2 linked regions of the Homo sapiens genome follow. The protein of the gene in region 2 purifies or fractionates together with the protein of the main gene of each other region. This does not show direct contact. Each region holds a gene or a part of one and is shown on either strand. Other genes may lie near its edges. The genes, in order: STK26 and FAM135B.

Region 1 (3,818 bases), on a different chromosome or scaffold from region 2:
GCGAATACTACATTTTACTACAGAGTAGTAGTGGAGTGGTTCTCAACTCTGTGTGTGCTTCATTGAGACCTCCTACCATAGATAAATACCTGTCCCTCACTACTCCCCACCTATTGAATCAGGATCTCCAGTGGTGTGGCTTGTGATTGCTTTAAGGTTCCATGAGTGACTCTTATGGGAAGCTAAGGCTAACACCCATTAGAATAGGGCACAAATTATTCTGATATTTTTTATCCCTTTCCAACATTGGACAATTTCTCATAAATGGAAGAATCTCAGAGTAGTATCTAAAGAAATTTGGTGTTGCCTTTGTGCCAGTTCAGCTGGTGGAGGACTAAATTCTGGCATAGCATACAGACTTTCCTAGTCTAAATTAATTGACAGACTTAGAGGCTGAATTTTTAATGTAAACGCTGCTGTTATAAAACCCTACAACTTTTTCAAGAAATAAAAATCATGCATAAATGAATATTTAAATGTATCAGTCTGATCTTGGTTTGGTACATGGCCAAGAGGTGGGAAAAGCCTGGAGGTCAGTTCTTTAGAGGGATTTTGCAGGTTGCCATCAAAGTATGAGAAAACACAGCTCCTTATTACTTTGAGCAAACTAATATAACACCTTTAATTGAATCCTGTTCCAAAATTTTGTAATATACTCAAGTATCCACTAGGGGTTAGACCAAGACCATTTAAAACTAGAGCTATTCACTTCCAAGAAAAACATGTTTCCAACTCCATTGTATTCCACAGACTGTGATTGAAAAAGATTTTTACAGTTTCTAAGGTGAAATTTCAAAATATGGTTTATATTTTATGCTAGAACAAGCACACTGGAGCATAGCTAAAAGATATACAATATTTAAATAGGCTGCCTACATAAAAATTAAATAATTTGTACATACGAATCAGAGCCCTCGGAATCAGATTCATCATCACTGTGTCCTTCTGCCTTCCATCTCTTAAAACGATCTATCAGTTCAGTCAGATAAGAAGTCTTCTTTGAATTTTTTACAATGAATTTGTGTTTCAGAAGTTCTTTTGCTGTAGGACGCTAAGGATAAAAAGATCAAGGCTGCATATGACAATTGTTGAACTCTTATGATTACAAGGAATGGTAAAAAAAATCATTTGAATTATTAAGCTGAAAGGTATAAAGGTATGTCTGTAGACATAAGAACAACTAAAATGCTGTAGGAAAATAGCTAATTCTATTATTGAAGTGGCTCAAGGCAACCACATTGAATCTACTACTTTGGTGTCCCAATTTGTTAAAGCCCAACGGGCAGCAGGTGGCTTACCCACCAGCAAACTGGCAGGCAGGGCCTTCTCAAAAGCAGAGAGACACATGACAGTATTTAGAAAGTAAACATTTAAAAACATTTCAAAGTAGTGTTCTAAAATACTTTAATCACATTTACTGTAAATTTGAAAAAACCTGATGAAAACTTGCAAGGCTGTAATTTTGTTATTATCTACACATATAATCCCTTCTCCATCACAAATCAATGTCTATTGCATCTAAATGCAAACACCAGGTGCTGTGGAGGATGTTCCGCCTTCATTTTATTAACATGAGAATGTTTATCATCAACTTAAAAATAGTTATATCAAGTTTGGACTGCTCTTGTGTATTTCTCGTCTCAAAAAGTCACAAGGCAGCTTTATTTCAACAACAGTAAAACAACTGTAATAGAATCCACCAAGTAAATGAATGGAGCTCACTAGCCTAGGAAAAGTATACAACTTCACATTGAAGTTTCTAAACACCAAATAAAAATAGTTAAACCTGGCCAGGCACAGTGGCTCATGCCTGTAATCCCAGCACTTTGGGAGGCTGAGGAGGGCAGATCACTAGAGGTCAGGAGTTCGAGACAAGCCTTGCCAACATGGTGAAACCCCATCTCTACTAAAAATACAAAAATTAGCCAGGCATGGTGGCGGGTGCCTGTAATCCCAGCTACTTGGGAGGCTGAGGCAGGAGAATCGCTTGAACCTGGAGGTTGCAGTGAGCCAAAATCATGCCACTGCACTCCAACCTGGGCAACAGAGCAAGGCTCCATCTCAAAAAAAAAAAATAGTTAAACCCAAATATAACTTTTCATGAAAAATGAAAACAGTTGAACAAAAATCATTGTATTTATACATACACTTTAATAATGACATAATATAAAGTTAACTTTATTTCTCAAATTTATTTCCCCCTGAAAGAGGAAATAATGAATAGAATAAGGAGGAAGCTGAGGATCAAGAAAAAAACGAAGGGTAAGGAGAAAAAGAATGAAGAATCTGGTTAAGAACTCAATAGAAATAGCAATACAGAAGGACGAACCAGGTTCCTGGATGGATCTTAGACAATTCTCACATACACTGTATTCCCTACTGCAGGAAAAGCTGCCTTTGCTATAAGTAGATCTAATAATAGAAAACAAATAGTAATAATAGCAATATATACTCACAAATGATGGATCTTTGTTCAGGCAAGCATCAATAAACTCCTTAAAAGACTTAGTAAAGTCTCCAACAAGAGTTGGAGGATTGTTTTTGGGAATAAGAAACAGAACTCTCATTGGATGCATATCGGAGTTAGGTGGCTCTCCCTTGGCTAGTTCAATAGCAGTAATTCCCAATGACCAAATGTCAGCCTAACGTAAAAGGAAAAAGAAAATAATATATATATATATATATATATATATATATATATATATATATGTGTATGTATGTATATCACCTTGAAACTCCATTCCAATATACTACCACAAAATAGTCTGTGGAACCTAATGGCTATACAGTACTTGTCTCTCAAGAAAATGTGGTGTTAATAAATTTTTATTAGTAGAATTCATTTATGTAAAACATAATGAATTCCATACTTTGTGCCAGGTACCCTTCTCGGAATGGAGGATTTCAGTAGTGTATAAGCCAGACAAAAATCCCTGCTCTTAAGGGGTTTACATTCTAATAAGAAAGACAATAAATAAATAAATAATATGGTGCCAGACGGTGCTAACTTCTGTGAAGAAAATAACAAAGCATAGTAAGAGAATAATGAATCATGGGGGGAAGGGTGTTGCAAATTTACATAAGATGGCCAGGGAAGACTTCCCTGCGTAGGTGATATTTAAGCAAAGACCTGATTGTGGGAAGAAGGTTTTTTCAGACAGAGGGAAGGGCATGCAAAGGTCCTGAGGCCAGGGTGTACTTGCTATGTTTGAGGAACAACCATGAGGCCACTGTGGATGAATAATCTAGAAGAGAGTGGTAGGAGATAAGACTGGAAAGGCAGATAATGGCCAGATTGTGTAGAGCTTTATATGTCACAGAAAGGACTTAGGATTTTATTCCACGTGGGATGAAAAGCCATTGAAGTGAATAGGGTCCAAATATTAGTTAGCTGTGAGGGAATTTATGATTAAGCAGCAAAATATGACATAACTCTAGCTTAAGAAACACTTGTGAAACAAGGAAAAATAAGGCAGTGTATTAACTAGGATAGTGTGCCATATATAATTTATTAACAAGCCCAAAACAGTTTGTACAGGTAATACTTTACTTTTGAGTCATAAGCTGACTGTTGAATAACTTCAGGAGCCATCCAAAATGGAGTTCCCACAAAGGTATTTCTTTTAATCTGTGTATCTGTCAGCTGACCAGCAACTCCAAAATCAGCAAGTTTAACATCTCCTTGTTCTGAGAGCAAGACATTGGCAGCTAGGAGGAAAAAAAGAAAAGCAAAAAAAAACTCAGCTTGCTCAGAATGCTTCTATTTTTCTCAGGTTCATATTAGACTTTTGTATACCTTTTATGTCTCGGTGAATTTT
Region 2 (3,918 bases):
TCTCTTTTCGTAGTTGATGGATGTTTAATGATTTGCCAATCTGAGGAAGAGAGATTCTTTAGAAAACAATAATCCCTTTTACTTGCACAAGACATCAGGTTTTAAAAAGCCCTTCCCAAACATCCTCTCCACATCCCATTGGATTGTGATTGAGCCTGGTAAACTGCAAGACTTGTTAGTTAGTATCCCCATTCTCCAGATGAGAGAAAGAAGCCTCAGTGAGGTGGAACAACTCAAGGTCACACAGCAGGTGCATGAGGAAATCAGAGTTCAAATCCATGTTTTCTGACCCTCCAATCTGGTCCACTTTCCTCTACACCTAACCATCTGTCTAAGCTCTGATAACATCATCCATATTATGACATAAATCTCCAGATGAGAGGTTGGCCAAATCACATCCCCTTGGGTAACATAACCACACCATAAATTAAAAGCCCAATTAAAGAACATAGCCTTTTAACTGGGACTTAGACTGTCCCCCGAGGCCACGATATAAAGGAAGAGCCCTTTCAAAGTCAATGGCTGCCTATCCTGGATATTATTCAGAGGCCTACTTACCTACATGCACGAACTTTCAGACCCTAATTATTCACATGCTATCTTCCTTCTTCCGGGGCCCTGGTCCCAGCTGATCTGAGTTTGTAATCACTCCCCAAGCTCTGGCCCTCTCTCCAGCCTGCAGATGTAGTTAACAGTCCATCACACTGTATGGACAGCCCAGGTGCCTCTCGGCTTTGACACATCACTTAACATCAAGAGCATCATAACCTGATGGAAAACAATGCCCCCTGGTTCAAATGGACAACTGAAGCGGTGTCTCCAGCTGTCTGAAAGCGAGATAGTTTGCCAGTGGCCAAGGAGCAAGGATTGTCACTATGAGCGATGTGATTCTTGTTTTGCTGGCAAAGTGGGGTGGGGAGCTAGAAATGAGGTGGGGAGAAGGGGAGGGCATAGTCTTGACTGCTAGCTCAAAATTTTATTTCTATTCCCATCCTATCCCTAATAGTCAACGGCAATAACATGATACTCCTGTGTCCCAAAATAATAACAGTTACTACTTGCCTCGTCTAAACATCCCCTCCAGTGACTGGGCTTGAAGCTGGCTCTACAGATCAAGAGCTGGTCCCTTTCCATGTCACAGCTGAGCTGCAGTGTCCCCGCACACCCCTGTCCCCAGCCAAGCCACAGGAAGAACGGGTCTGTGCATTCGCCTGGATCACAGGGAATCGCTGCCACTGTCCCCTCCACCCCAGTGCGGTCTTCTCCTGAGCCTGGCCCCCGGGTTCCCTGGCTCCAAGGACCCCAATGGCCAAGGTCTGCATGCGCCCCCTCAGCCTCCATCTGGGACTCCTGGGGGGAACCCCTCATTAACCCAGCCTCTCCGCTCCTTTCACAGCCCTGGCCCTTCTTATCCCCTCAAGACCTGTCCAGATGTGCAGCAAACCTGGAGGGCAGAGAGACTGGGGAAAATCGAGGGAGATAAACCACATTTTGCGGCGGAATCGCTGTTCCGTGACAGAAAGCCATCCAACTGGCAACCACGCTTGCAGAAGCGTCACTACCACCGACGAGAGAGTTTTGCAGCTGCCGACCCCGAAGCGCTCTCACCTACCTGTCTCCACTGCAGGGCTCCCCTCTCTCTCCCCCGGGGGCCGCGCTCCTGGGTCCCTCTCTCTCCTCTTTCGCCGTCTCTGGCCGCCAACAGTTGCGGCGGCGGCGGCGGCGGGCGGACTGGGGAGTCCGCAGCACCTGCGAGCTGGTGTTGGGTCCCCGCGGCGAGGCTGCCTGGAGGAGGAGCGAGCGGATGCTGCCCTCGCCCGCCGCCGCCGGTGCTGATGCGGTTGCTATGGTTATGGAACCCCGCAACTGCCCCCCTCTCCGTGCAACAGCTGCCCGGCCGCGGCCTCCGGGCAGCCCCAGCGAGCAGGCGCCAGGACGCGAGGCTGTCAGCGCGGTCGGGGGAACGCAGCCGCCAGCGCCGCAAGAAAGCAAGGACCGACCGGCTGCGCCCGCGCCGCTGGGCTGGCGCCTCCCGGGCTGCGCTCACCTCTGGCGCCCTCACTCCTCTCCTTCCTCCGCCGGGACGCGGCCAGACCCTCCGCGCCGCGCCGCGCGCCCTCGCGGCCGGGAGAGCCCGCCCTGCTGCTCCCGCTGGCTCCGCTCCGCAGCCGCTGCGCACCGCGTGGGTAGACGCTGCGCGACTGGCTGGCGGCGCGGCTCACGCGCTCCCACCTCGGTCCCTCTCCGCCGCGAGGCCCTGATGGGAGCCCGGGGCGGGCCGCCCGGCGGCCAAACCCCGCCCGCTCGGCCGCCCGGGTGCCCAGGGCGCAGGCTGCGGCCCCGCGTGCGGCCCTCCCAGACTGACCGGCGCGAGCATGCTCAGTCCCCGCGGCGGGGCTCCCCTCTCGAGCCAAGACCCCAGGCCTCGGGCAGGAAAAGGGTCCCTGCAGATATCCGGGGGCGGGGCGCGGCGGAGAACTGGCTGGGAGGGGACTGTTGAACTTGGAAGAGAAGCCCAGGCAACAAGTAGATGCCTGAGAAAGGGTAAAAGCGCTGAGCAACCCATACCTCCAATGCGAAGTCAGCAGTGGCCTTCAACCAGCCAGCCGGCCCGTCATCCGATGGGCTCCTCACTTCATGCTGAACGTGGGGGTTCACAGACGTGTGAGATTCTGTCCACGGAGGAGGGAGAGGAAGATTGGGGAGGGTTAAGCCAGCTCCCGTCTACTGAGCATTCTTAAGGGGCATTGGGAACTCTAATTATCACCACCACTGTGCTGGCAAGTTCTCGTGGCATGCCTGTGACAGATGACAAAACAGCCTTAGAGAAGGAGCCAAGACTGGGACTCGGAAGCCCAGTGACCCGTCCACTAGACTCGGCTGCACTAACTCCACCCAGGAGGAGGCAGGGAATGGAACCAGGCATTAGAGGATGACTATGTCCCCCATTAGACTGGGCTGCACTAACTCACACCCCAGGAGGAAGCAGGGAATGGAACCAGGCAATTGCAGTTGGCAGGAGGAGTCTCTAACCCTGTCAGGCTGGGGGCAGGGGCAAGTAATTGGGGAAAGATACCTGAAAAAAAGGTATAAGAACAAATGAGTGGGGCGGTGAAGGGTAGAGAAGACTGCTCTTTCCAGGACAAGAGGAGCAGGGTACAGAGGCCTGGAGGCAGGACAGAACAGCAGGAACCTAGCAGCAGCAGGCAAGGAGAGGTGAGGCAGGCGAGTGGTGAGGTTTACAGGGCAGGCACTGCACACCAAAGGCCTTGCGATCCAAGTGAAGGGGTTGGAATTTGACAATGTGACCCTTAGGATGGGAAGGGAATGGGGAAGGTGGTGGGGAGGAGGGCAGTGAAGCAGTTTAAGCAGGAGAAAGGCTGGGTGGGAATGAAGGGAAGATCACCTTAGTTGAAGTGTGTGTGGTGCTGGCTAGGGTGGGGATTAAGGCTGCAGAAAGAGGTGTCCTAAGGAGGCTGTTGACATAGTGGGCCTGGGCAGATGGAGGCTCTGAGCTATCTACCCTGCTTGTCCTCCCCACAGCACCCAGCAAGCCCAGGGCAATGCATACCCTCAGTAAATGTTTGGTGAATGGCAAATAAATATGAATTTCTCAATAGAGAAAATGGGTGCTTTTCTTTTACAATATTTGTCTCTTAAATGTGTTCATAACCATATGGCATTTATTTTGCTATTGACATTGCATTTTTATGCAACCTTATTTTTGAAAGTCAGTGCAAGCACTCATTATTTTCCTCTGCATTTTCTAGTCCCCAGCAGTAGAGATATGCCAGGAGCATAGGATTTACTTGTATTGGATGTATTGTCTGGATAAAACAGCTCCATGATTTATTAAGTGAAAAAGCAAAGTGCAGAATAGATAAAATAAGATAATATTAAAATAAGACAACTGTTGTG

Evidence for each region.
Region 1: the proteins of FAM135B (region 2) and STK26 purify together in Homo sapiens (affinity purification with mass spectrometry; one large-scale study listed by BioGRID and IntAct). This does not show direct contact.

What each region holds. Positions count from the first base shown.
Region 1 is NC_000023.11:132,068,302-132,072,119, reverse strand, and holds part of STK26 (serine/threonine-protein kinase 26), read right to left. Parts: coding exon 3,797-3,818; intron 3,709-3,796; coding exon 3,551-3,708; intron 2,643-3,550; coding exon 2,457-2,642; intron 1,052-2,456; coding exon 903-1,051; intron 1-902. UniProt on the Homo sapiens protein: Serine/threonine-protein kinase that acts as a mediator of cell growth. Modulates apoptosis. In association with STK24 negatively regulates Golgi reorientation in polarized cell migration upon RHO activation.
Region 2 is NC_000008.11:138,495,059-138,498,976, forward strand, and holds the start of FAM135B (protein FAM135B), read right to left. Parts: upstream 2,204-3,918; 5' UTR 1,613-2,203; intron 1-1,612.